Regions from separate parts of the Homo sapiens genome. Here region 2 is linked to region 1. Evidence: fine-mapped expression QTL. Tissue or cell type: whole blood. Region 1 holds a variant in brackets; the other region holds the start of a gene. All regions are shown on one strand. Distances are from middle to middle.

Region 1 (4,384 bases):
CCGTTATCTGTAGAAGTTCACTCAGTGTGGTGCAGCTGATGTTTCCTTATAAATAAATTTAGATTGTCCGTTTTGGGCAGGAAAGCTAGAGAAGTGATGCTGTGTCCTTCTTAGTGCACCATATCAGGAGGCACATGATGTTGATCTGTCTCAGTGTTGGTGATACTACTTTTTACTTGTTGGTGGTTGTTTTTATTTTACTTATTTTTTTTTTTTTAAGACAGTGTCTTGTTCTGGTGACAGCGGCCTGATCTTGGCTTACTACAGTCTTGACCTCCTGGACTCAAGCAATCCTCCCACCTCAGCCTCCTGAGTAGCTGGGACTACAGGCATGCACCACCACTCCCAGCTAATTTTTAAAAAAAATTTGGTCTTGTTATGTTGCCCAGGCTGGTCTCAAACTCCTGGGCTCAAGCAATCATTCCACCTTGGCCTTCCAAAGTGCTGGGATTACAGGCACAGCCATTGCACCCTGCCAGTATTAACTTTGATTGCTTGGTTAAGGTGGTACCTGCCAGGTTTCTCCTGTCAAGTTACTACCTTTCCCTTTGTAATGAATAAATAATTTGTCAGGCGATCTCTGTTTGTCCCTACTTGTGAATTTATAGGCAGAGACTCAGTCTTCTATTACTTTTTTATTTCTCAATCTGTGTATCAGATTTTCTTTAAGCTGGTCCATAGTCATCCTGATCCTAAGGCAATGTTCATGTTTCAACAAGTGATGACTCCTTTTTCCTTATTAATATTAATTTTTCAAGTGGTAACTTTATAAATAATAGTAATGGTAAATCTTTATTGAGCAATTCCTACATGCTTCTTCTAAGCAGTTAGCATGTATGGACTCATTAAGTTCCCACAATAGCCCAATGAGATAGGTTCTATGATTCAACTCCTTTTACAGATAAAACTCTGGAGGTTTTGAGAGGGTAAGTAACTTGCTCAGGGTGATGCAGCTGATAAAGTGGCTGTGCTGGGATTTGAGCCCAAGCAATCTGGCTTCAGAATCCTGATCCCTAACCACAATACAGGGTTGTTTCCCTGCAGTTCCTTTAGTGCCACTCCTGTCTTCTAAGCTGGATCCCTTGATGGTCTTTCAGAACAGACACTATGCCATGTGTGGAGGCGCATGCCTGTGATCCCAGCTACTTGAGAGGCTGAGGTTGCAGGATCGTTTGAGCCCAGGAGGTCGAGGCTGTAGTGAACTATGATTGTGCCACTGCACTCCAGCCTGAGGGACAGAGTGAGACCCTGTCCCTATTTATTTTATTTTATTTATTTATTTTGAGAAGGAGTTTCACTCTGTCGCACAGGCTGGAATGTAGTGGCACTATCGCAGCTCACTGCAACCTCCGCCTCCCAGGTTCAAGCGATTCTCCTGCCTCAGCCTGCTGAGTAGCTGGGATTACAGGCGTGCACCACCACGCCCAGCTAAGTTTTGTATTTTTTAATAGAGATGGGGTTTCACCATGTTGGCCAGGCTGGTCTCAAACTCCTGACCGCAAGTGATCCACCTGCCTCGGCCTCCCAAAGTGCTGGGATTACAGGCATGAGCCACCACGCCTGACCTCTGTCCCTATTTAAAAACAAAAACAAAAAAAAAACAGACAAAACCTGGGCTCCTGGTGAGTCAGTCCATCCCCCGACACCCAGAGGAGGAACATGGTTGTGCAGCACCCTCATGTCGCAGAGGTTGGAAGCTCTGCAGCAAAGCCCAGTTTGTGCTAAGCATCGTAACCTGGGGCTCAGTTTCCACAGTAGCGTGGGAGTTCCCGGCTAGACAAAGGGGATGTTGCAAATCAGTCTTTTCAAAACTTTTAGGACCAAGTTTTCCCACCAGGTGTGAGGCATGAGGCTGCTTCTCTGCACGTGTTCTCGCTCTGCAGTTTCTCACTCATTGTTGCAGGTTTCCTTTTTATTTTAGGTCCCTGCAGGCTTCAGTGTGGCTGCCAGTGTCCGGGTAGGAAACGCTCTGGGTGCTGGAGACATGGAGCAGGCACGGAAGTCCTCTACCGTTTCCCTGCTGATTACAGGTGCTGAGACCCCTTTACCCGAGGCTCTTGGTGCAGTCTCTGCATGCAAAACCCAGGCTCCTCCACTTCCTGTGGATCTTCTTGTTCACTGTGTTGTTTCTTCTGCCGTTTTTACCTTCAGTGCTCTTTGCTGTAGCCTTCAGTGTCCTGCTGTTAAGCTGTAAGGATCACGTGGGGTACATTTTTACTACCGACCGGTGAGTGCTAGGATTTTCTTGAAATGTGAAATCTGTGATAAAGAAATGGTTCATTGAGAAAATTTGTTCTCTAAAATCAGGCTGTTCAGAAACATTGCTGTTTGAAATCATATCAGTAAAAAGAAAACATCTCACTCACACCTGTAATCCCAGCACTTTGGGATCACCTGAGGTCAGGAGTTCAAGGCCAGCCTGACCAACATGGTGAAACCCTATCTCTACTAAAAATACAAAAATTAGCTGGGTGTGGTGGCAGACACCTGTAATCCCAGCTACTTGGGAGGCTGAAGCTGGAGAATCTCTTGAGCCCAGGAGGCAGAGGTTGCAGTGAGCCGAGATTGTGCCACTGCACTCCAGCCTGGGCAACAGAGCAAGACTCCGTCTTAAAAAAAAAAAAAAAAAGAAAGAAAGAAATGGTTCCTCCAAGAGCAAGATG[C/T]CAGCAGAAAAAGTTTTTTAAAACTAGGAATTTTTTTTAAAAAGAGGCCGGGCACAGTGGCTCACGCTGGTAATCCTAGCACTTTGGTATGTCAAGGCTGGCAGATCACCTGAGGTCAGGAGTTCGAGACCAGCCTGGCCAACATGGTGAAACCCCCATCTCCACTAAAAATACAAAAATTAGCTGGTCATGGTGGCACACGCCTGTAATCCCAGCTACTCAGGAGGCTGAGGTGGGAGAATCACTTGAACCCAGGAGGCAGAGGTGCCAGTGAGCCAAGATCGTGCCACTGCACTCCAGCCTGGGTGACAAGAATGAGACTCCATCTCAAAATTTAAAAAAGAAATGGTTAAATTGGATAGATGCTATCATAGAGGCCACCTATGGTTGTTGCAGCAGGGATGTCTGACTCATTTGCAAGATCAGAGGCTCGGCCGGGCGCGGTGGCTCACACCTGTAATCCCAGCACTTTGGGAGGTTGAGGCGGGTGGATCACAAGGTCAGGAGATCAAGACCATCCTGGCTAACACGGTGAAACCCCGTCTCTACTAAAAATAGAAAAAATTAGCTGGGCGTGGTGGCGGGCGCCTGTAGTCCCAGCTACTTGGGAGGCTGAGGTAGGAGAATGGCGTGAACCCGGGAGGTGGAGCTTGCAGTGAGCTGAGATCCCGCCACTGCACTCCAGCCTGGGCGACAGGGCAAGACTCTGTCTCAAAAAAAAAAAAAAAAAAAAGATCAGAGGCTCCACTGATGTTACTTGGGAAGAACATATTAGATGTAGGAACTGATGTATAATCTACAGTGCCAACTTAATGGGCATTGGTAATGATTTTATGCTTCTGCTGGTCATGTATTTTAAAGGTGGAAACCCCTTTTTAGTACGATTAATTACATTTTCAGTTAATTATTTTGTTTCCAGTGATAAGAATCCTCTTGGTTTCTTAGTATCGGCCAAAGTGCCCGGTTTGTAGTAGTTGCATAATATGTTTGTCAAACTGAATTGAAGTTAAAATCTCACCAGTGAGCTGTCTCAAAAGTCATATTCTCAGATTGATTACTGAAGAATTCTTGGATAAGTCCCCTCTGCTCTGCAGAATTTGTTTCCTTCATCAGCGATGCTAGTGTGTACATTCGGACTATATAGAAACTTCGTGGGGGTACTTCTTATTTGGACACCTTTGTCAGCAGTTACAAAATGCAAATGGACTTTGCCTTCCTGGATTCAGAAAGCTGGTGGAGCGGACAGAACTAATTTCATGGTTTATTCTTCACACATTTGACTTTTGACTTCAGATCGTAGGTTTTCATTTTTCAGCTTCAGCTATTTTGTTATGGGGAAATAAGATGTTTAGGCCAGGCACGGTGGCTCACTCCTGTAATCCCAACACTTTGGGAGGCTGAGGCAGATGGATTGCCTGAGTTTAGGAGTTCAAGACCAGCTGGTCGACATGGGGAAACCCTGTCTCTACTAAAAATACAAAAAAAATTAGCTAGGCGTGGTGAGGCACGCCTGCAATCCCAGCTACTCAGGAGGCTGAGGCAGGAGAATCACTTGAACCTGGGAGACGGAGGGTGCAGTGAGCTGAGATTGTGCCACTGCACTCCAGCCTGGGCAACAGAGTGAGACTCTGTCTCAAAAAAAAAAAAAAAGTTTATAACTCCCTCACTCAGAATGAGTGGGGAAGGCGATGGCAAATAGTTGGCTTTTCTCACAAAGGGAA
Region 2 (4,384 bases), 27 kb before region 1:
ATCAATTGCTTTTAGAATCATTCTATTAAATTTTAAAATAATGGAATACACAGTAGTGGACTAAAACCTAATATATTAATTGAAAATTAATTTTCCTGTGCTACTTTTTGGAAGGAAGTCACTGTGTACAATCCACCTTTAAGGAGTGAGGAGTTATGCTCTGTATCACGAGGACCTTTTGTTTTTTGTTGCTATTGTGAAAGATTTCTTTTAGTATTTTCATATATGTTATTACCAATATAAAGGACTGATATGACTTGTTGAAGAACTTCTATGTAGCAACTTTATTAAACCCCTTTATCAATTCTATTAGCTTTTGTTCATATTTTATTTCTTTGGGTTGTGTGGATTTTTTTTAAGAGATGGGGTCTCACTGTGTTGCCCAGGCTGGTCTCAAAACTCCTGGGTTCCAGTGATCCTCCCACCTCGGCCTTCCAAAGTGTTGGGATTATAGGCATGAGCCACTGTGCCTGGCCCGGTCTGTCAATTTCTACTGTGAGTAATCCCTTTGCCTTTTCTTTCCTAACATTATACATTACATTTCCATTTCCTGTCTTATTACATCAGTCAGGACTTCCAGAAAATTATCAAAAAACAGCAGTGATCAGAGATCTAGTGAATATCCTCGGGTATTTGTCTGTTGACACTCTCAGTTCTTTTGGGAAACTGCGCTACTCCATATGTACAGTCCTTGTGGGACGAGACCAGTCACAGGGCACCTAACCCTAACCCTGTAGGTTCAAAGCTGGGTGCATGGTCCAGGGCCAGCCAAACATCAGACCCTATTTTCCCACCCAGGGCGATTGTTCCAGAGGTGGGCAAGAAACCTAAGCAGGGCCAACCAGATTTTCTCCCAGTTTTTTGTTTGTTAGTTTGGAACCAGAAGAGAGGAGGGGAGGGCCTTACTTTCTGGTTTAACAGACGGGAAAGATAGGAACGAGGGTATCAGAGGCCACCACTGTCACTTGCACAGGAAGAGAAAGGCTGCCGGCAGAGGAGGAAGAGAAACTACGGAAAGAATCCCAAGGGGCGAGGAGAAGGGAGGAGAGGGACAGAGATGGGAAGAGGGACAACAAGAATGATCTGGTTTTGTTTTTTTTTTTTTTTTGAGTGGAGTCTCCCTCTGCCACCAGGCTGGAGTGCAGTGGCGAGATCTCGGCTCACTGCAACCTCTGCCTCCCGGGTTCAAGCAATTCTCCTGCCTCAGCCTCCCTAGTAGCTGGGATTATGGCGCGCGCCACCATGCACAGCTAATTTTCGGTACAGACGGTGTTTCACCATGTTGGCCAGGATGGTCTCGATCTCTTGACCTTGTGATCCGCCCGCCTAGGCCTCCCAAAGTGCTGGGATTACAGGCGTGAGCCACCGCGCCTGGCCTAATGACCTTGTTTTCAAATCCCTGAATCCAAACTTCCTGATTATGTGAGCCAAAAAATTTGTTTTCCATTTTCTCTACTTACATTGGATCATTACAACGGAAGGAATTTTGACTATTAGAGAAATCAATCTTGTCCTGGTAACTGACACTTATTAGGTAACGGCTGGTGCCAGGCTGAGGGCAGGTGGCACTGACTCCGGTCCTCCGCCCAGGCAACCCCAGTCTTCACAGCTGGCGACGAGTGTTCTTTCACGTTTGCAGATGAGGAAGCTGAGGCTCTGGGAGGAAAGCGCGCTGCTCCTGCCCTTCTGGGCCGCAGCCTCTCGTACTCCCACAGCAGGCTTGATGGATAAACTTCCAACACGACCAGCTGGCACAAACTGTGCTACTTGGCAAATGGGAGCATGTTGCTCTATCCTGGTAGATTCTAAGTTCTCTAATGGAACAACTGATGAGAGGAGAGGAGTATGCAACACCCTAACCAGCATCAAAGGGTGTACCCAACTCAATCTGCACAGCAAATGCGCCCAACCCCACACACCCCGCGGGGTGCTAACCGAGTCACGGCTCGAGGCCTCTGGGTCCTTCCACGCCAGGTCATTCAGAACCTGAAACCCCCAGCGGAGGTGGAGAGCCGGGGTGAGTCCTGGCGTCCGAGACGTGGAGGACCCAGCCCCCGGAGCGCGTTCCGTTAGTTTACAGAGCTTTTTCAAACTTTGCCTTCCAAGTGCAGGAGTTCCTTGGTCTTTGCAAGACCCGCAGGCGTCCGCAGTGGTGCAGAGAGAGGTGCAAGGGGCGCGCCCAAGGTCGCAGGCTGCCTGGCTGCGCGCTCAGTCGGGCCCCCGGGCGCCAGGCGCGGGGCGGGCTCTGGGCGGGCGGCCGGGGCGGGGACTGCAGAGCAGGCTGCACTGCGCGGTACCCACTGCCGGCCTGCGCGGTACTCACTGCCGGCCTCCGCGGTACCCACTGCCGGCCTCCGCGCTACCCGGCCGCAGCGCGCGAGTCACATGGAAGCTCCTGAGGAGCCCGCGCCAGTGCGCGGAGGCCCGGAGGCCACCCTTGAGGTCCGTGGGTCGCGCTGCTTGCGGCTGTCCGCCTTCCGAGAAGAGCTGCGGGCGCTCTTGGTCCTGGCTGGCCCCGCGGTGAGTAAGGTGGCCTCAGTGGCAGGCCGGTACCGGCGGGCTGGGGACCTGGTGATTTCTGCCTCCGCGGGTGACTTTGGCGGGCTTTGGGGACCGAGCGAGCTGTCCGCCGGCGGGCTCCGGGGAGCATCGTGCCAGGAGCCGGGCGGGCACCCCAGCTCCTCTGCCTGCGTCCCGGCCGCTTTCCGCTCCGCACCACCCGACTGGGGGCCCCGCGGGGCACTGCGGGAACGGCTGGTACGCGCCCGGGCGCATGTTGGCTCGGAGAGGCCGGCGGCTCCAGCCTCCTGCGCCAGGAGACACCGGAGAGCTGGGACCTTTGCCCCTAACGGGGCTCTACCAGGTCCAGGCTGCATTTGCATCCGGGGGTGCCTTCTCTGGGAGCTGATTCCGGCCAATAAAACGCAAGTTGCCTGAACTTCAAAACACAAGGGAACTTGTTTCTTTGAAAAGTAGCGGTCAAAAGTTCGGGAGCTCTGCGATCTAAATAATCCCGAGGCACGGAGGAGGGGGTGCGTGGTCTGTCGTGGACTCAGAGCTGCGAAATGATTTCTTCAGAATTCAGTCAACCTCTACCGAGGAAACCAGAGGCATCCTGTACCACCCCCTCCCCGCCAGTAATTATGTATGTGAAAGAAAAAAGGGGTTTTAATGTGGTTCTTTGTGGGGTCGAGGTGTTCTTATCTGTGGGATTCTTTTCTTTTTAATCATTAGGTTAGGGCTGTTTCTGCCTTGTCTCCTAAAAATAATGTGGTTTTAAAAACCACAAAAACACAATCCTATCCACGTTCTCCTGCCAGCTTGGGTGGTTTTCAAACCGAGAGGGTAGGACGCGGCACAAGAAGCAACTGGTATGCACTTAAGGCGTGAATAAGCTTTTGACTTTGAGGCCCACATTCTGCACCTGCGCGGGCTGAGGGGGGCCGCTGTGCCTCTGGAGTGGGGGCTCGGTAGTTTGTGGGATATTGTGGCACCCGCTGTGGTGTGCAGGACAGCAAGGGTAATGCCGAGGTCAAAGCCATGGAATAAGATCCATCAGCCATGCTTTCTCACAGACCAGAAAGAACTCATGATTTGGGGCTGGGCGCGGTGGTTCACGCCTGTAATCCCAGCACTTTGGGAGGCTGAGGCAGATGGATCACTTGAGGTCAGGAGTTCGAGACCAGCCTGGCCAATATGGTGAAACTCCGTCTCTACTAAAAATACAAAAATTAGCCAGACGTGGTGGCGGGCGCCTGTAGTGCCAGCTACTCCAGAGGCTGAGGCACGAGAATCGCTTGAACCTGGGAAGTGGAGGTTACAGTGAGCCAGGATGGTGCCACTGCACTCCAGCCTGAACAACAGAGTAAGACTTGGTCTCAAAAAACAAAACAAAACAAAACAAAAACACCTCATGGCTGGGCGTGGTGGCTCACGTCTGTAATCCCAGCACTTTGGGAGGCCAAGGCAGGCGGATCACGAGGTCAAGAGATTGAGACCATCCTGGCCAACCTGGTGAAACCCCGTCTATACTAAAAATACAAAAAATAAAAAATAAAAATTAGCTGGGCATGGTGGCAGGCGCCTGTAATTCCAGCTACTTGGGAGGCTGAGGCAGGAGAACCGCTTGAACCCGGGAGGCGGAGGTTGCAGTGAGCCCAGATCGCGCCATTGCACTCCAGCCTGGGCAAAAAAACACCTCATGATTTGGAATCTCAAGACCTGGGGCTGCGTGCCCTGCTTTGACCTCCGAAAGTAAGTCAGGAAGCAGCTGTGCAGATTGAAACAGCCTCCTAACCTCTTCTGGTCTCTGCATATTCATTTGTAAAATGGAGATAATAATCATGTCTTGGTTCAACACTCCCTCACAGAGCTGCTGTGAGAA

The links.
Region 2: SLC47A1 starts here. The variant in region 1 is fine-mapped to the expression of SLC47A1 in whole blood (TOPMed, PIP 0.99).

Annotation. Positions count from the first base shown.
Region 1 is chr17:19,558,267-19,562,650 of GRCh38, forward strand. It overlaps SLC47A1 (solute carrier family 47 member 1), which reads left to right. Exons shown (of 17, transcript NM_018242.3): 11 at 1,922-2,030; 12 at 2,152-2,227. It overlaps LOC105371578 (a long non-coding RNA gene), which reads right to left. Exons shown (of 3, transcript XR_934310.4): 3 at 2,029-2,259. Among named protein-coding and RNA genes, the nearest start is that of SNORA59B, 2.9 kb to the left of the region's middle. The variant C/T (reference allele first, on the strand shown) is at 2,664.
Region 2 is chr17:19,531,555-19,535,938 of GRCh38, forward strand. It overlaps SLC47A1 (solute carrier family 47 member 1), which reads left to right and starts at 2,300. Exons shown (of 17, transcript NM_018242.3): 1 at 2,300-2,520. The coding sequence starts at 2,386.